Linked DNA regions of Homo sapiens. The protein of the gene in region 1 interacts with the protein of each later gene in a biochemical or structural test. Each region holds a gene or a part of one and is shown on either strand. Other genes may lie near its edges.

Region 1 (10,529 bases):
GCCAGGAGCAGTGGCTCACCCCTGTAATCCCAGCACTTTGGGAGACTGAGGCGGGCAGATCACTTGAGGTCAGGAGTTCGAGACCAGTATAACAAATATGGAGAAACCCCATCTCTACTAAAAATACAAAATTAGCCAGGCGTGGTGGCGCATGCCTGTAATCCCAGCTACTTGGGACGCTGAGGCAGGAGAACTGCTTGAACCCGGGAGGTGGAGGTTGCAGTGAACCAAGATTATGCCACTGCACTCCAGCCTGGGTGACAGAGCAAAACTCCATCTCAAAAAAAAAAAAAAAAAAGAATGAAGTTGCCATCAACCATTTTAAGGTAAAACCCTACAAGGACACTATGGTACAGCTGTTACAAGTATCCTGATTTATTTGGTCTCCTCACATTTTAAATTCTCTTTAGTCCCTCCCTCCCTTTCTCCTCCCACAGAAATAATCTAATCCTGGAAGTCTGGACTGAATAACTGCTGCAGACAGAAGAAGTTTATCCTTGAGAAAGTATGGATATGACTGCAATGACAAGACACCCTATCCCAGAAGGCAACCCCAGACTAGCTAACGTTTGATGGCTAAGTCAAGCAACAATGGAAAGTTTCCATTTGCCATGTATTGGCTGTGTGACTTTGGACAAGTCATTTCTCCTCTCAGTGACTCATTTCTTTGTCTTAAAGTAAGGGTAATATTACCCATAGGGTTACTGTGAGTTCTAAGTAAATGAATGGAATCCAAGTACTTAGAGCGGCAGCTGGTGACAGCTGCTACAGAGTAAGTAATACATAGGCTGCAATTATTACTATCATTTTTTTATTTTCCTAAAGAATTGTTCTGAAGATTACTATTGTTGTTATGTGTTGCTGTTTTTTCTCAATCTCTGAATGATTTTATAAGAAATAATACCTGGAAAGCATGAGTCCAATATCAATTTCAAAAACATGAATAACCTAACACTAAGATAAACTGAGCAAAAAGACACATTAAGTTGCCATTAAGCACCATAGACACCTAAGTTCCCAGACACTAAAATTACTGAAATTCTACAGGACAAGTATTACCCCTTCATGTGCCTGGTGACAAAGGGAAGAAAGCATGGATACATATGTCATATCTCTGTGATTTAAAGACACTAACCTATCATAGAAGACCCATGAACTTCAAACCTTTCTAAACCAGCTGGGTGGGATGTTTTTCAGGACATAAAAAATATGGTATTTGAGTACTTCAGCTTTTGATATATACTAGAGTCAATGATTCTTAAAATGTAGTTTTAAAATGTTTACTAATAACCTAACAATCAATATAACTCAGTTCAAATACATACAGATATAGATGAGCAAATACAGACATATAGATGTATATAGTGTGTATATATATACACTCTATTTAATTAAAACCTGTTCTCTTCTCTCAGCCTCTAATAATGAATTTCTACCAAAAATGTCCCTGAACGGCAGGTAACACTTCCAAGATTTGCCCAGCCAGCAATTCTCAGGCCTACCTGCATCTCAGAATCACCTTGGAGAGATTTAAACATATTAATGGCAATGTCCAGTACTAGATTTCTGGTTTAACTGAAACCAATGTTGAGAACTGCTGGCTGGGTCAATGCTAGAAGTATTATTTATTGAATTTGAGAGACAGAAGGTGAATTAATATTTCGGGGTTTAAACTAGCATAATCATATGAACTGGGATCTGGGATGAGAGGGCACTCCACAGCCTAGATTGGAAACCTGCCCTATACTCTCTCAAACTATCCTGAATCTGCAAAAGAGTCTTCCAAACATTCTCTCAAAAATTCCTGATGACTGAAACTTAAGATTTCTTTGAAATGAAAGAACACACAATATCATTTCACTGTACTCTGGCAAAATTGTACTGAGCCTTAGTGCCAAATACCTGGTTACACTTATTTTTTCCACCTTATTTCCTTACAATAGTCTATAATAACTGTATGCAGCCTGGCTCTAAGAAATGTAAATCTTCTTTTTTTTCTTTTTTGATCCATCATTCAAAACAAAGCCTCCGCTAGATACTGCACAACATAAAAAGGAAATTTACTGCACATCATAAAGAAGACATTATTTCCAAATGTTTTCGCCTGTCAACATAGTATAGGACTGGGTAATGGCTTTCTGTAATAAACTCATTCATTTATTCCTCCCTTTAAAGTACAATACTTACTGTTTATTATATGCTAGACTTTTCTTTCAGGTGCTAGAGGCTGTGAAAGTGATCAAGACCGATCTGGCCTTCATCCTTCTAGATGCCTTTAAATGCATAAATTTAAGAAGAAAGTATGGCTGTAGTTCAAAGACATCTAAGCGTATGTTTAAAATAATGGAAATCTAAAATAACAACACTAGACACGTCATATGGAACCATAATTTACTAAGCGCGTACTAGAAACCAGACGTTGTGTTACTCCCTTTATACATGGCACTCATTTAATAAAGATGCTCTCCTAAAAAGATTAAACTACCATTTAGAAGAAATTACACGAAGACAAACGAGAAAAATCTTTCCTTTAGCAAAGTTTAAATGTGGCCTTTCCACAGTGGAGAGAATCTTCCATCCTAAAGTGGACAGGAACGAATTATGAAGTTGTGTTCATTCATTCACACAAAAATTTCTTCATATTAGTTCAACCAGATTAACTATGAGAAGATGTTTGGGTTAAAAAAATCACCTTGTCATAAAAAGATACTTCCAATTTCAAATCTTTTCAGTTGAAAATTCTATAAACTATATTTTAAGCATGATGCATAAATATCCCTCTGTCGTTATCACTGAGCAACAGTGCTAATAAATATGTTGCCAAACCAATAAAATAAATAAAACATTACTGCGTGCAGTAATTAGTCTTAGCTTTTTTTCTTTTTGCAAACTCCAGACCAACCAAAAGTCACCTGAATAAATCAGAAATTCATAGGACTGCAATTCGGGCCCATGCAAAAACTGAGACTTAACCCAAAGGTGTCTGACAATCTTTTAAAGAGCATTCTCGGGAGAAGCTATTTGACTAATCCTGGAACCGCCACTCAAAAAAATCATTTTTTAAAAAAAACGGTAGAATGGGAACGGGGGAAGTGGAGTCCATTTGTAAGGTTCCGGGGAACTGACTCAACATGGTTCTCCAACTCGAGGTTGGAGACACCGGGATTCCAAAATGGGAATCCACTCACTTCGCTTTTATAGGACAAACGCGTGCACAACTTGGCTTCGGGCTGCATTCAGGTAGTGCCGGGAACCCCGAGCTCCCGGGCCGCCCCCACCCAGCTCTGGCCGCTCCATTAAGGACGAGGGCCGGCTCCTGTCACCTCGCGACCCACGCGCACACACCCGCCCTAGGCCCGCCGTGCTCGATGCCGCGGGCCTGCAAAGTTTCCGCGGCCGCTCACTTGGGGGTAACCAGCGAGGGGTACGCCCAGAGGCTGCGGGGCCCCGGGCGCCTAGGCTGCGCGGGCGAAGCCCCGGTTATGCACGGGTCGCCGAGACCGGCTGGGCAAGCAAGAGCAGCCGGGCCGCCCCGACGTTGGCTGTGCGACTGTTGCCGCGGGGGCGGGTAGGGGGCTCGGCGGGCCGCACTCACCGTCTATGTTCTCCCGGTCGCTGATGTGCTGCAGGTTGCAGCCCGTGTCCTCGCGGCTCAGGTCCGTGTCTGGCCGGTAGGACTCCAGCCGGGAGTGGGCATTCCTCCGGAGCTTGGGACTGGACGACACGCAGCACGAGGTAGTGTTCCCCATCTTCGGCGGCCCCCCGACTCCTGCTGCTATCCTGTTCTCCCAGTCCCCGGGAGCGGGGCGCGGGTGGACGCGGGGCGCGGGCGGCGGGGGCGTGTGGGGAGGCCCGCCCGCTCGCCGCCACGGGAGGGGGCGGAACGGCGGCCGGCCGCCGGGTCAGCAGCGGCGGCGGCGGCGGGGCCTCGCCATGGGCGGCGGCGGCGGCGGCGGCGACGAGCGGGCGACGGCCCCGGCTCCCCCTCGGCCGGCCTATCCGCGGCGGAGGAGCGCTCGGGTCCGCGCGACTGCGGCCGCCGCGCCTACCTCACCCCGCCGCGGCCATGGCGGGCGGCGCCGCGCAGGCCGCCTCCCCCCCGCGCTTCCCCAGTTGGTGTCCGCTTCCCCGGCGGCTGCGGCGACGGCGGCCGCCTCGGCAAGAGGTTCCGGTTCAAGCCGGGGGCACGCGTGTCCGCGCCGGACGGCGGGACTAGCCGACGAGCGGGCGGGCAGCGGGCGTGGGCGCAGCCCCCGGACTCCTCGCGGCGCGGTGCGGCGCGGCCAGGGAGGATGCTGGCGGCCCTCCCTCGCCAGCGGCGCCCGCCCTCGCCGCAGCCCCCGCCCCGCCCCGTCACCGCCCCTTCCCTCTGCCCTGGAAGCAGATCGGCGGCCGCGGGGAGGTTCGGGGCGGCGCAGCCCCGCGCGGTTGTGGGATCGCTCCCGGGGGCCGCTCCTCTCTCGGGCACTGGGGTCGCGGGAGACGTCGTCGGGAGCTCGGTTTCTGGAGGCCCTTCCCCACCCGGCCTCTGCCTCCTCCACTCCCCCGGGCTGGACGGAACGGGGCCCAGCGCGGGATGCGAGGTGCGTCCCCGGGGCCCGCAGCGGGCGGGAGCGCAGCCAGGGCCCGGTCGGGGACGCAGGCCCAGGGCGCTGAGGCTGCACCTGCCTCTCCGAAACCGGGCTGGCTCTTTTTGTCTTTTTATTTTTCTAATTTATTTTTTTAGAGGTATGATTTCGCTCTGTCGCCCAGGCTGGAGGGCAGTGGCGCAATCTCGGCTCACTGCAGCCTCGAACTCCTAGGCTGAAGCGATTCTCCCGCCTCAGCCTCCAAAGTAGCCGGTACTACAGGCGCGCGCCACCACGCCTGGCTAAGGTGTGTGTGTGTGTGTGTGTGTGTGTGTCTCCAAAGTAGCGAGGACTACGGGTGTGTGTGTGTGTGTGTGTCTCCAAAGTAGCGAGGACTACAGGCTCCCGCCACTACGCCAGGCTAAGGTAGGGTGTGTATGTGTGTTAACTTTTTGTAGAGATGGGATCTCCCTTTGTAACACGGGCGCCCGCCACTAAGCCAGGCTAAGGTGGTGAATGTGTGTGTGTGTGTGTGTTAACTTTTTGTAGAGATGGGATCTCGCTTCGTAACCCGGGCTGGTATCGAACTCCTGTCTTCAAGGAATCCTCCCGTCTGGACTCCTCCCATGGGATTACGGGCATGAGCCACGGCACCTGGCTATTTTTTTTTTCTAAGCATTTAAATAAGCTGGGGCTTGATTTGGGAGTTTTCTATTGTATTTTGAGCTTTGCCGAGGACTTGATAGTGACCTTGCTTTAAGCTGTGAAATAAATCTTGGGGTCCCAGAGCTATTTTAATATTGAATTCGCTGTGGAGTTGTTTTGAGTTCCTTGGAGGTTAACATGAGATAGAAAACTAAGTTAACACAACTCATCGACTGCCCTTGCTTTGCTTTGCTTTGCTTTTAGAATGCCATCGGGTTTTGTCATGTTGGGAACAAGTTAACTTAGGCCAGTTGACTAAGATCAAGGTATGTGAACATGCCTGGCTGGGAGAGAAGTAGAGTAAATGTTGGTTCGCATTCCCTCCCGACGCCCACAATGCCAGCCATCCCTGACTTTTCTTGCCTTTATTGGGAAGAATATAAGGTGGCAGAAACAAACTTCCCACCCTTTTTCCAAATATTTACTGAAGGAGTCTTGAGGAGAGTCTTGTGGGGTGGGGGGGTGGGGGTGGGAGCTGGGAATGTTTTTGAACTAGTTCTTGAAAAAAAAACTAGTACAATAGTACAACTGTCTTAATTTTATATATGAGGAAACTGAGGCCCAGAGATGAAATCATGCCTTGATTTATGCAGACCTCAGTACCTGTTCGTGACAAATCCAGTTACTAAAAGGTAAGAGAAGGAATAAGGGACTTGATATTTATCTAGCATCAGCAATGTGTGGACATCGTGTGAACGGCTTTATAAACATTTCATTTAATTCTCTACATCTAGCCATTTTTTAACCTGTGCTTTCCCTCCCTCTCAAAGTACTGTTTATACATTTATTAGTCCATATTTTAAACGCTCCATGCTCTCAACTGTATTAATGCTATTTGTTAGGATAAGTGGCAGATGTCCATGGAAAATAAGTGGCTGCAAAGTGGTAATGCTGACCAGATGAGAAAAGAAGTGTAAAAGGGAAGTTCTAAAGAATTAAAGCCCTGGAGAGGGTGGGTAGACAACAACAGTCCAAAATAGTGCTCTTCATTGAGGCTGTGTAGATTTTCCTGCTTCCTGGGAAAACTGGGGCATATTTACACTTGCATGTGTGTATTCAGATTGTCTGGGGCTATGGAGTTTGGGTCAGATTGCTGAACCCGTGGGAGAGAAGTTCCCTTGTTGTCTGTTGTTGTCTGTTCTGATTGCTGCTTTGTAATTTGGGCCACATATGAAAGTCAGCATCCAGTCATTGGACCATAGGTGTGTGGCATATCTACTCAGATGCATTAAGCTATTTTTATTTCATTATAAAATGTATAACATTTACATTCAAATTATGGTTTGAAGGGCTTAAGAGGAGAAAGAGACAGTGGCACTAAGGTGACAGCATGGCTGGCTGCATGCTTCCTGTCCAAGAAGGTCACTGGGCAGTGTTAACTGGGAAGAGCATCTGGAGGATGAGAGATCAGTGTAGCCACATACCCTTAACAAAGGGTGGTACAGCCTCTGGTCTGCCAGGATTTTTGTGCCCCGCCCCCCTCCCCCTCTTTCCCTATCTCCTCTTTGACATTTCCACCATATTCCCCTTAGGTATGTACCTGTTTGGACTTTAATTTAGAGTGTAACTTTTGGTCAAGAATCCTGGAGAGAAAAGACGGGTACTAAAGCCTCGCTAGTGATTTACCTGGGTGCCGACCCCCACAACTCATCCACCCTACATGCATACTTCAAACTCCTCCAGGCAGATACTCCCTGCCTGACACACAGTGACACTTTGGGAAAAATTGCAGAACAGTAACCAACTCTGAGCAGATAAATGTGATGTCAAAATGATAGTAATGAGAGATGTCGTTCGTTGAAAGCCTGCTAGCTGCCATGCACTATACTATTTCTTACATCTAAATCTGATTAAGTTATACCCCATTTTATAAATAGACACTTTGATAAGTAAACCTATCTAAGATCAAAATACTGAGAAATGTCCTAATTGGGGATTTGAACCTGGTTCTAATTCCAAAGTCCAAGCTACATCCACCCCAACCTCCTACCTCCTATCTCCAAGACTTTGTGAGTAAAAAAACAAGTGTCACTTCTCTCCTTCTCTTTTTTCTGTCCTAAAGGAAGCTGGGAGCTAACCACTTAGGACTAGTACTAATCTTTCAGAGAAAGGGATGAGGGGAGCCTTGTTATTTCTGTGGGGTTCAGCTCTCAGACCAGAGTAAGACAGGCAACAAGGTTGAGGAGTAGCCATATGCAGAAATAACCTGTGTATCTAGCCACAGGATCTCCAACACTGTGTCACTCGGGAATCAAAATACAGAGACAGTTCCTCAATAGAGTGTGGATCTAGCCCAGAATGTGGACAAGGGGAGTGGAGAAGGGGAGAGGTACACACTGAGCATTGTAACAAGGCCTGTCCTCAAGCTTGAGGAGGATTAGGAAGATGGCTTGAGTCTGGGAGTAGGAGGCTGCAGTGAGCTATGATTGTACCACTGTACCCCAGCCTAGGTGACAGAGTGAGACCCTGTCTCTTAAAAGAAAAAAAAAATTGACCTGGATCTACTCATACCCACCCTGGTCTTTGAGCAGAAAGAATCATTTGGGAATTATTTTGTCTCATCTTTCTCCATGATCACTGTTGAAGAATTTGGTCACTGTAACCAGGTAAATATAAAACTCAGGTGGGCCGGGCGCGGTGGTTCACACCTGTAATCCCAGCAGTTTGGGAGGCTGAGGTGAGTGGATCACGAGGTCAGGAGATCAAGACCATCCTGGCTAACACAGTGAAACCCTGTCTCTATTAAAAATACAAAAAATTAGCCAGGCGTGGTGGTGGGCGCCTATAGCTCCAGCTGCTCGGGAGGCTGAGGCAGGAGAATGGTGTGAACCCGGGAGGTGGAGGTTGCAGTGAGCCGAGATCGTGCCACTGCACTCCAGCCTGGGTGACAGAGCAAGACTCCGTCTCAAAAAAAACTCAGATGAACTATAGCTAAGTCAGTGCTCTTGACACTTTTTTAGCAATAGTAGCTTTGTTTCTCACAGAAAAAACAAAATTTTCTGTGGAACCACACTATTTAAAACATAAGCAATATTAGTATCAACTTGTATAATTTATAGATCTACTGATAAAAACAATCAAGAATAGTCTACCTTAATTGAATCAGGAGGAGATAACTGCAGTCTTACATCAGCCATACTCGTATCCATGAAATATGAGTCAGTCATTTGCACAACTCCCTGAGTCACCTTCTGGAACACAGAAAACACTGAGCCAAGTTAGCCCAGGACCTGAACCTTTTGTGGAAAGGAAAATCTGTAGTGTCTCCTCAGAGTATGGCTGCCCTTTCACCTGGTAGTCAGTTTCTCATGACGGTTACTCGAGCATTTATAAGGCAGTTGTGAAATAACCAAGACATTCTGTGTGTTGTGCTACTGATGCTCCTCCTGTCACCGACCTCCTCTCCAAATGAGGCCTGCCTTTTGTCCTTGGTAGTAGGCAGTCCACAGTGTAACCAGCTACAGGGGAAGTATTTACTTTGATAGCCACTTGACCTTGATCAAGTCAGGTGACTCATTTCTGGATAACATTTTTGAGAGTATACTGAGCCAGGCACCTTGAGGATACGAAAGTGGATTATAGTTTCCATTCTGGAGAAACTCACAGTCCAGTAAGTTAAACAATCACAAGAACAAGTTTCCAGCAATGAGAGTGATTACAGCCACTGAGTGGTGAAATCTGAGAAATGCAAAGCCTGCCGCCTATAAATACCTACATTTATCGCCTGGGCATATACCTAAAATTCCACCATGAGAAATATATTTATATGAAATTAGAAACTACCCAGAAATTGTGCGTCCAAATAAAAATTCCCACAAGAAATAAGGATGGCTAATAGTTTTAAGTAGTAGTGTCAAGTCTTTTGGACCAGAGTAACTGCCAGGGACGTTGTGTTGAGGATTCTGAGGTCATGTTCCAGCTTAGCCGAGAAGGGAGCCACCATGAGGGAACGAGTGAGGGAGGGTAGCACTTGTGCCCCATATTTTTTCCTAAGTAAATCATTTGTTGATGGAATGCATGATGAAACAGGGACAGCCAGGGTCTCTGGCATCTGGGAGAAAGCCCACTTGGAAACTGATTTATCTACCTCACCACTGCAAGTTCACCATTTGTCCCCAGACTAAATGGCCTTAGGAAGCCCAGGCTCTGTCTTGTCGAACTCTACCTTCTTTATCCTTCCATACTTTTCAAGAAGAGAAATGGTATATATATGTGGGATCCTTGAGAACTAGGATGTACCTGTGAGCAGGCAAAGTGTAGCATCTAGCAGGGTCAGGCATAAGTTGGAAGTGAGAGAGGTGGCTACTGTGCTCCCCAATGGCTGTTCTCCCATCTCCCATAGTTTCAAGGCCTGTTTTGTGAGGAACAGCAGTATGCCCAGCTCAAAGATGACAGCTGGCCACAGGACTAAGTCTGGCCAATAAGATGTGAGTGGACGCTTCCAGAAAAGCTCTCTAAAGAGGCTACCTCTAGCCAGGCGCAGTGGCTCACGCCTGTAATCCTAGCACTTTGGGAGGCCAAGGCAGTGGATCACCTGAGGTCGAGAGTTCAAGACCAGCCTGGCCAACATGGCAAAACCCCGTCTCTACTAAACATACAAAAATTAGCCGGGCATGGCCGTGCCGCATGCCTGTAATCCCAGCTACTCAGGAGGCTGAGGAGGGAGAACTGCTTGAACCCAGGAGGTGGAGGTTTGCAGTGAGCTGAGATGTTGCCACTGCACTCCAGCCTGCACGACAGGAGCGAGCCTCCATCTCAAAAAAAAAAAAAAAATAAAAGCTGCCTCTTCTCTGCTTCTTGGAGTATGGTCAGGATAGCTGGAATTCTAGCATCCAGTTTTGAATGCCAAGTGACCTTGAAGATAGAAGCCATGAACTAAGATAATGTCCCTGTGTAAGCTTCTTTTACATGAGAGAAATAAACTGTGTGTATAAATCATTGTTATTTTGAATTCCCAAGTTGTATGCAGGCAAATGTAATCCCGATCTAGCCAGGAATTGGTATTATTCATTGATAAGAGCTTCATATATTCATGTTGACAGTTTTCCTTGATTGGCCCCCAGATGATAGGTATTGTGACCAAGACCTGTGGGGCTATCATGTGTACTTGGCTCCCTATAGGAGAATCCAGGATGGAATGGAATGATACAGTAGGCAGCCTCTGGAGCCAAGATACGGTATAGGTAGGAAAAAGAAATGATTCACCCAAGAGGCAGATTAGGCCCATGAAAATTAGGATTGTCAGATGCATTACTT
Region 2 (10,266 bases), on another chromosome or scaffold:
GGAACTGTGGTTGTCCCTGAAAACTTGACTCACAAGGTTGTTTGCAGGCCCTAGTCTTTCTGCACAGGTGCCTCTCCACAGGGCTGCCTCATGGCATGGCAGCCGGCTTTCCCCAGGTCTGGTGATCTAAGAGGGGATACTCAAGGCAGAGAGAGCACCAAAATAGAAGAAACATTGTTCTTACAATGTTTTCTCAGAAGCGGTATCCTATGATTTTTGCCATATTATATTTATGGGATACAAGTCAACAAATGCAGCCCACACTCAAGAGCTGGGGATTACATAAGAGTGTGAATACTTAGAAGTGGGTGTTATTGGGAGCCATGTTAGAGACTGCCTACCACTGTATTTTAAAATGGTGAATTACAGATTTGTGAATGTTAAGCCAACCTTGCATTCGTGGGATTAGTGTGACATTGTCATGGTTTACTATCTTCTTTATATATTGTTGCATTCAATTTGTTGAAGATGTACCAGTAATTTTTTGCATCTGTGTTCATGAGAGAGATTGATCTGTAGTTTCCTTACAATGTTCTTGTGTGGCTTTGGTATTGGAATGACACTGGCCTTATAAAATGAATTGGGAAGTATATCCTCTTCATCAGTATTTTGAAAGGGTTTCTGTACAATTGAAGTCATTTCTTCCTTTAATGTTTGTTTTAACTTCACCAGTGGTGCCACCTGGCCCTGGCATTATCTTTGTGGTAATGTTTTTGACCACAAATTCAATTCCTGTCATAGACACAGGCCTATTCATGTTATCTATTTTTTTTTTTAACTGAGTGAGCTTTGGTAGTTTTTGTCTTTCAAATAATTGGTTTCATCTAAGTTGTGGAATTTATTGGCACAATGTTGTTTGTAGTATTTGTAGAACATCTGTAGTGATATCACTGCTCCCATTCCTGATAGTAATATTGGCGATGTATATTTTCTACTTTTTTTTCCCCTTATCTGTCTGGCTAGATGTTCATCATTTAAAAAAAACTTCTCTGAAAACCAGCTTTTGGTTTTATTGATTTTTCTTTATTGTTTTCTGTTTTCTATTTTATTTATATCCACTTTCTTATTTATTATTTCACTCTTCTTATCTTGGTTTTTATTTGCTTTATTTATTTATTTTTTTTTTAGTATTTTAAGGTGGAAGCTGAGGTTATTGCTTTGAGACTTTTCTTCTTTTCTCTAGTCATTTAGTGTTACAAATTTTCCTACAGCTAAAGTACTACTTTAGCTGAATCTCACCATTTTCGTATTTTGTGTTTTCATTTTTATTTAGTCCAAGATGCTTTCTAATTGCCTTTCTCTATTAATTTAGTCATCAACTATTTTCTGTCATCCTTATCTTTTAGTTTCTATTTTAAGTAATTTGATTTCAACGTGCCCTTACATTTTTTTTTCTTTCAAATTTTCTGTGTTTGCAGTTCATTGACTTCTCAGGCCCATGTATTTATAATTTAATTGCTTTAGTGATGTGGGTGGTTTCTTATTTACTGCCTTCATGTCCTTAAGAAGAGCACAAAAACCCTTAAAAATATTGCATGCTCCAACATACTTGTAATTCATTTTTACTTTTTGATCATGACTAGAGGACTCTGCCTTGAGTCTTTTAAAAATATCTTCAGCTGTTTTCTCACATGCTAAAAAGTATGATAATATTTTTCTCATTTGACTTAGTTAGAATTCAGCCTGTGCTTAGTAGTTGAGACATACTCATAGGGTTGATGTTTAATGATTAAAAACTTTTTGTTTCAAAAACTTGAAATGGCTTATTTTAATTATACATGCTTTTCTACTTTAGTGGTTTTTAAAACATTACATATGTTGGAATATTTATTATAAAATTCACACAAGAGTGTACCAAAAATTGCTAATCTTGCCCGTTCAATTCCACATGTCTGGAGATATCTGATGTTAATAGTTTGGTGGTGTGTTTTCCTGTATACTTTTCACCATGCTCATACACTCACAAATATCTATATCTATGCATCTGTGTCTGTATTTATATCTGTATCTGTCTATATCTATCCATATACATAGCCGCATTTATACCCCACATGGAGTCATTCTATACATATTAGCTCTGTGTATCTGTGGGTTCTGTATGCACATACTCAACCAACCACGGACCCAAAGTGTGTATTCAAAAACTTCGTATTTTTACCTTAACAGTGTGGGCTTTTCATAAATATCTTCGGTTTTTCTGCTTTTGATAGCATATAGGGATGTGGGAACTTTTTATAAGAAGAAAAGCATTCTAAAAACAATTTTATTTAGAGTTATATTTTCTTTAGAGAGAACAATTAAATTAGTTAGCTTTACAGACAAGCCAGAGGCCATCAAATTATTGAATAAAGACAACAAAGTCTCCAGAGTATCGGGAGAATGACAGGCTTAGAACTAAAGTAAAAAGCAAGGAGCAAAAATCACAGAGACTGAAATAAAATGAGAGGGTGGGGAAGGCTGGGTGAGAAGAGAATGGGTGAAGAAGGAAGAAGAAGGGAAGGAGGTGGAGGTCTAGTGGAATAATGTAAACCAAATTTTGAAATGAATGCTTTTTGGTGTTTTTCTTTTACAATGTTATTTCTTTTTATCCATTAGCTTTGAAATAAAGGAAACCCCCACCATTGTCCTCAGTTCTTCAGTATCTCTAACCATTAGCTCCATTCATTCCAATTTGGAGATGAAATCAAGATGGGGACAGATTTTAAGCATACATATTCATGCATAAAACTTTTAAACAACATAATGCCCTTTCCTTCTCTAGCCTAGGTTAGCTGCTTACACGATGACCCATCAGTTAATGTCCATCTGATTTGCCTATTTTTTGTTTTTTAAATTAAGGCTAGTTACCCAACCTCTTAATGATTCAGAAATAAACCACTTCCAGTCAGATGGTAAAACGTGTGACAGAGTTCAAGAATCATGTTAGGGTACTACTAGCAGCCTGGGCCTTAAGTTTCTCATTTTAGAGGTAGATTTTTTAGTGTAAGCTCTAGTGTGAGATCTAAGTGTAAACACAATGATTGTGAGGATTTTTTTGTACTGTAATTTATGCTGATGCAGCTTTTAGAATGTGGGCTTTTTGGGTATTTCCTGAAACTGAAATTGGCATGCTTTCTAGAGTTATATATTGGCATGTTTAGTGATATTAAAGTTGCAGTGAAGAGTTCTGAATTTAATTTCTTCTTTTCTCAGATATGTGTCACAAAGATGTCTACACGGAACTGCCAGGGAATGGACTCAGTGATCAAACCCCTGGACACAATTCCTGAGGATAAAAAAGTCAGAGTTCAGAGGACACAGAGCACTTTTGACCCATTTGAGAAACCAGCTAATCAAGTAAAGAGGGTGCATTCTGAGAACAATGCTTGCATTAACTTTAAGACCTCCTCCACTGGCAAAGAGTCACCTAAAGTTAGGCGGCACTCCAGCCCCAGCTCGGTAAGTGCAGTCTTTTTGTTTATCACTGGGTAAACAGAAGGAATAGCCTTCTTATGATAGCATGCGGTGCTGGAAGACAGCAGGAAACTTTATCAGTGCCTTATTATGCATTCTCTCCCAGGGTGGTTGAATGTTTTGGAAGAGAGAGAGCAAACTATATATGGACTCCTTATTTATAAGCACTAAGCAAGCAAATGAATGAAATGATTCAACTTATTTTTGGAAAAATCATTTTTCCCCCTTAATTGTTTCTAGTTAGAGGAATTTATAATTAAAAGTCTTTTGTATTTCAAACCCTTGGAGAGGTTATTGAACTTTACTGTGTAGGCAGTAAGGATAGTTTTGAAATTAGCAAATTCACAAGGAATTTCATTGCAGAATAAATATCAAAATTTGTTCACTTGCGTTAATCCAGTTTTTTTTGGGGGGGTACTCCACCAGTCTTTCTCATGTGACTCTGTAAAGTGACAAGTTGAAGTTCTTTTCCAGGACAAAGCCCTGTACTGAATGGAAAATGCTGGAGTAGAAATCTGTGTAGGGTAGATTCAGTAGGACCAAAGGAAAGAAGAGAATGTCCAGAAAGAAGTGTTAGAGGGAAACAGACTTTAGATATAACTAGTGATTTACAAGTTAGAAAGGAACACACCAAGAGAGAATATTCTCTGTTATATTTCTATTCTCAAATACATTTTTTCCTACTTTTTGGCTTAAATTAATATACATTATTTACAATTGTATGATAATGTAAATTTTGGTCAGGGAAACCACAAGTATGCTATGAATAAATTTCCTTCCTTGCACAACTTCTTCATTTTCTTAGTTGTCATTGTCTACTTTTCCTTCATTCAAATTAAGATAATTTTAAACACAATTTGAGGCCTGCAACTATATGACAAAACTGTAAAATGCCTCCAAAACAAATCAGATAATCTATCAGTTTTTCTCCCCCACTGAGATTGCCCTGGCAGTTCTTCATAGTCCTAATTTAATATAGATTGGTTAACCTCTAATCCTATAGTCATAAGGCGTCCTTTTCTGAGAATTTTTTCCTCCTTTTTTAATGTTAAATACCCATTCTCTGGGTTACATGTCTTTCTTGTTCTTGGTTTATTTCATTGTTTTAAAGTACATCCTCGCAGTAGCTTCTTGAGAAAGGGTGATGGGGGGTTTGTCATATGACTATGATTTTATCTGTCGTTGATTACTTGATTAATAATCTGGCCAAGTATGTGATTTTAGTTTAGAAAATAATTTTTTCTTAGACTTTTGAATACCTTGTTTTATTGTTTTCTAGGTGCCTAGATTGTATTGAAATCCCTAGACTATTCTGGTTTCCCAGTTCATCCTTTATCTGCTTTTTTGTTTGTGGAACTTTCTAGGACTTTCTTTTCATCCCTGGTGTCATCCTTTTTCTTGGTATCAATGGGTGTTTTCAATTTTTGAGTTAATTTCTTTCAGTTTCAAAAATTTTCTTATATGTTTATTTAATTTTTTGTAATCTTCTCTTTTACGATAACATTTTTATTAGTTGGATGTTGGCATTATTGGATTGATCTTCTAGTTACCTTTTCTTTTCCCTATTATTTTAAATCTTTTTTTTCCTACCTTCTGGGTTTTTTTAACTTTTAATTTTTAACCCTTCAATTGGATTTTTAATTATACTAATATTTATTTCCATGAACTCTTTCTTATTCTTTGAATGCTCTTTTAAAAAGTATCCTGTTCTATTTCAATGAATAACATATCACTTCATATGTTTCTGAGGATACAAAATGTAGCTTGGGGAATTTTTTTTCCTTTTACATATTCTCTGAATTATTTCTGGATTTCCTTTGAGTTTCTTGTTTCTGTTTATTTGTTTTGGTCTCTGCCTTACCTGTTGAGATTTTTGGTGGGTCTATGTCATGCCTCTTGGAGAGAAACTGTTGGCTGTCAGTTTATGTTATGAGTAATGTACTCAGAAGTTGATTGGAAGCTCTGTGCCTGGGTGGCTTGTCAGTTGGTTGGCTTCAGCATAGGGACTCTTGGTGAAGACCTAGTCGTTTTATTTAAGTACTCTCAAATGTCGCTGTCTCTTGATCTTGTTTTTGTTACTGGGTGTTTCTCACAAAATGGACTTACCCAATTTATTTTTTTTAGGACATATAAACCTAGCTGTCACTATTCTGAGATGATCAAGAAGGGACTGAGGACCCTTCAGTTCTCTATGCCAACTTTCTCATGATTTTTTTTTTTTTCATTCGGTATGACTCTTCAATCTGATATCCACTCTGCCTGGTATCCAAGCCCCAGTTGAATTCTCTGATTCAACCTCTTCAGAGAATAAATCTCTGGCGGGACTAGGAAGGGATAGGGGGCTGGCCGAGGGAGACTGGGGCAAAGACCTCCACCTTAAATTCACTCCAACTAATCATATCATTTGTAGCCCCAACTTGAACTTCAGCTTCCAGTTTGTGAGTATTTTTGGGATTCTGAAGTATGAATTGACTTATTTCTTACTGGCTTATGCCTTGGATCATGTAGGTATCAAGGTTTTTTTTTTTTTTTTTTTTTTTTTTTCCCCACTCATCCTAGGCAATGTGACTTCTCAACCATTTGTGTCCTGTCTTTACATTTTTATTTCTATCTCGTCTCTAGTGTTCTCTTTACTCATTTTGATTGCCCTTATGGGTTTTAATTTTAGTATTGTTTTAGTATGAATTGGTAAGGGGGAGAGATAAATACATGTTTTCAAGCCATCAAGTTTCACTGGAAGTTTTCACAGTTTCTCTATTGTATTTTTTAGTTTCTTTAGATCATCTTGGGCTTACCCTTTCCTGGTTCACCCTGGGATGACTTTTTTTAATATATATTAGGTCATTTATATTACTTTGTGTGGGAACTGCTTTGCTTTCTTTTTATTTTAGGAATTTTTGCTTCAATTCAATGTGCCCTGGAAAAATGTCTTTTCTCTTACCTTATCAAACTGGAAATGGCTTCGTTTTCTCTTTCAGCAGGATGCTATAATATCCTGTTTTTTTCTGAGTCCTTTCTGTTTGCTGCCCTTTTAAAAAATATATTTTTTCTTTTTTTAAAATTATACTTTAAGTTCTGGGGTACATGTGCAGAACATGCAGGTTTGTTACATAGGTATACACTTGCCATGGTGGATTGCTGCACTCGTCAACCTGTCATTTACATTAGATATTTCTCCTAATGCTATCCCTCCCCTAGCCCTGGTGTATGATGTTCCCCTCCCTGTGTCCATGTGTTCTCATTGTTTAACTCCCACTTATGAGTGAGAACATGTGGTGTTTGGTTTTCTGTTCTTCTCTTAGTTTGCTGAGAATGATGGTTTCCAGCTTCATCCATGTCCGCGCAGAGGACATGAACTCATCCTTTTTTATGGCTGCATAGTATTCCATGGTGTATATGTGCCACATTTTCTTAATTCAGTCTATCTTTGATGGGCATTTGGGTTGGTTTCAAGTCTTTGCTATTGTGAACTATGCTGCAGTAAACATACGTGTGCATGTGTCTTTATAGCAGAATGATTTACAATCCTTTGGGTATATACCCAGTAATGGGATTGCTGGGTCAAATGGTGTTTCTAGTTCTAGATCCTTGAGGAATTGCCACACTGTCTTCCACGATGATTGAACTAATTTACACTCCCACCAATAGTGTAAAAGCATTCCTATTTCTTCACAGCCTTTCCAGCATCTGTTGTTTCCTGATGTTTCAATGATCATCATTCTAACTGGCGTGAGATGGTATCTCATTGTGGTTTTGATTTGCATTTCTCTACTGACCAGTGATGATGAGCTTTTTTTCATGTTTGTTGGCTGCATAAATGTCTTCTTTTGAGAATTGTCTGTTCATATTCTTTGCCTACTTTTTGATGTTGTTTTCTTTTTTCTCTTGTAAATTTGTTTAAGTTCTTTGTAGATTCTGGATATTAGCCCTTTGTCAGATGGATAGATTATAAAAATTTTCTCCCATTCTGGAGTTTGCCTGTTCACTCTGATGATAGTTTCTTTTGCTGTGCAGGAGCTCTTTCGTTTAATTAGATCCCATTTGTCAATTTTGGCTTTTGTTGCCATTGCTTTTGGTGTTTTAGTCATGAAGTCTTTGCCCATGCCTGTGTCCTGAATGGTATTGCCAACGTTTTCTTCTAGGGTTTTTATGGTTTTAGGTCTTACATTTAAGTCTATAACCCATCTTGAGTTAATTTTGTATAAGGTGTAAGCAAGGGATCCAGTTTTGGCTTTTTACATATGGCTAGCCAGTTTTCCCAACACTATTTATTAAATAGGGAACCCTTTTCCTATTGCTTTGTTTTTGTCAGGTTTGTCAGAGATCAGATGGTTGTAGATGTGTGGTGTTATTTCTCAGGTCTCTGTTCTGTTCATTGGTCTATATATCTGTTTTTGTACCAGTACCATGCTGTTTTTGTTACTGTAGCCTTGTAGTATAGTTTGAAGTCAGGTAGTGTGATGCCTCCAGCTTTGTTCTTTTTGTTTAGGATTGTCTTGGCTATGCAGGCTCCATATGAAATTTAAAGTAGTTTTTTCCAGTTCTGTGAAGAAAGTCAATGATAGCTTGATGGGGATAGCATTGAATCTATAAATTACTTTAGGCAGTATGGCCATTTTCATGATATTGATTCTTCATATCCATGACCATGGAATGTTTTTCCATTTGTTTTTGTCCTCTTATTTCTTTCAGCAGTGGTTTGTAGTTCTTCTTGAAGAGGTCCTTCATATCCCTTGTAAGTTGGATTCCTAGGTATTTTATTCTCTTTGTAGCAATTGTGAATGGGAGTTCACTCATGATTTGGCTGTCTGTTTGTCTGTTATTGGTGTATAGGAATGCTTGTGATTTTTGCACATTGATTTTTTATCCTGAGACTTTGTTGAAGTTGCTTATCAGCTTAAGGAGATTTTGGGCTGAGATGATGGGGTTTTCTAAATATACAATCATGTCTCTGCAAACAGAGGCAATTTGACTTCCTGTTTTCCTAATTGAATACACTTTATTTCTTTCTCTTGCCTGATTGCCCTGGCCAGAACTTCCAATACTATGTTGAATAGGAGGGGTGAGAGAGGGCATCCTTGTCTTGTGCCGGTTTTCAAAGGGAATGCTTCCAGTTTTTGCTTATTCAGTATGATACTGGTTGTGGGTTTATCATAAATAGCTCTTATTATTTTGAGAAACATCCCATCAATACCTAGTTTCTTGAGAGTTTTTAGCATGAGGGGCTGTTGAATTTTGTCAAAGGCCCTTTCTGCATCTTTTGAGATAATCATGTGGTTTTTGTCCTTGGTTCCGTTTATGTGATGGATTACATTTATTGATTGGCTTATGTTCAACCAACCTTGCATTCCAGGGATGAAGCCGACTTGATCATGGTGGATAAGCTTTTTGATGGGCTGCTGGATTTGGTTTGCCAGTATTTTATTGAGAATTTTCTCATCCATGTTCATCAGGGATATTGGCTTGAAATTTTCTTTTTTTGTTGTGTCTCTGCCAGGCTTTGCTATCAGGATGATGCTGGCATCATAAAATGAGTTAGGGAGGATTCCCTCTTTTTCTGTTGTTTGGAATCGTTTCAGAAGGAATGGTACCAGCTCCCCTTTGTACCTCTGGTAGAATTCGGCTGTGAATCCTTCTGGTCCTGGACTTTTTTTGGTTGGTAGGCTATTAATTACTGCCTCAATTTCAGAACTTGTTACTGGTCTATTCAGGGATTCTACTTCTTCCTGGTTTAGTTTTAGGAGGGTGTATGTGTCCAGGAATTTATCCATTTCTTCTAGATTTTTTAGTTTATTTGCATAGAGGTATTTATAGTATTTTCTGATAGTAGTTTGTATTTCTGTGGGATTGGTGTTGATATCCCCCTAATCATTTTTTACTGTGTCTATTTGATTCTTCTCTCTTTTCTTCTTTATTAATCTGGCTAGAGGTCTATCTATTTTGTTGATCTTTCAAAAAACCAGCTCCTGTATTCAGTGATGTTTTGAAGAGTTTTTCCTGTCTCTATATCCTTCAGTTCTGCTCTCATCTTAGTTATTTCTTGTCTTCTGCTAGCTTTTGAATGTATTTGCTCTTCCTTCTCTAGTTCTTTTAATTTTGATGTTAGGGTGTCAATTTTAGATCTTTCCTGCTTTCTCTTGTGGGCATTTAGTGCTATAAATTTCCCTCTACACACTGCTTTAAATGTGTCCTGGAGATTCTGGTATGTTGTGTCTTTGTTCTCGTTGGTTTCAAAGAACATCTTTATTTCTGCCTTAATTTCGTTATTTACCCAGTAGTCATTCGGGAGCAGGTTGTTCCGTTTCCATGTACTTATGTGGTTTTGAGTGAGTTTCTTAATCCTGAGTTCTAATTTGATTGCACTGTGGTCTGAGAGACTATTATGATTTCCATTCTTTTGCATTTGCTGAGGAGTGTTTTACTTCCAGTTATGTGGTCAATTTTAGTGTATGTGTGATGTGGTGCTGAGAGGAATGTATATTCTGTTGATTTGGGGTGGAGAGTTCTGTAGATATCATTTAGGTCTGTTTGGTCCAGAGCTGAGTTCAAGTCCTAGATATTTTTGTTAATTTTCTGTCTAATTGATCTGTCTGATATTAAAGTTTCCTACTATTGTTTGGGAGTCTAAGTCTCTTTGTAGGTCTCTAAGAACTCGCTTTATGAATCAGGGTGCTCCTGTATTGGGTGCATATATATTTAGGATAGTTACCTCTTCTTGTTGCATTGATCCCTTTACCATTAGTAATGTCCTTCTTTGTTTCTTTTTAACTTTGTTGGTTTAAAGCCTGTTTTATCGAGTGCAACCCTTGCTTT

Evidence for each region.
Region 2: of the proteins of CCNY (region 1) and CDK14, one has a biochemical effect on the other in vitro, tested with the Homo sapiens proteins (one study listed by BioGRID).

Annotation. Positions count from the first base shown.
Region 1 is NC_000010.11:35,330,274-35,340,802, reverse strand, and holds the start of CCNY (cyclin-Y), read right to left. Parts: upstream 4,295-10,529; 5' UTR 3,750-4,294; coding exon 3,596-3,749; intron 1-3,595. UniProt on the Homo sapiens protein: Positive regulatory subunit of the cyclin-dependent kinases CDK14/PFTK1 and CDK16.
Region 2 is NC_000007.14:90,723,375-90,733,640, forward strand, and holds part of CDK14 (cyclin-dependent kinase 14), read left to right. Parts: intron 1-3,192; coding exon 3,193-3,438; intron 3,439-10,266. UniProt on the Homo sapiens protein: Serine/threonine-protein kinase involved in the control of the eukaryotic cell cycle, whose activity is controlled by an associated cyclin.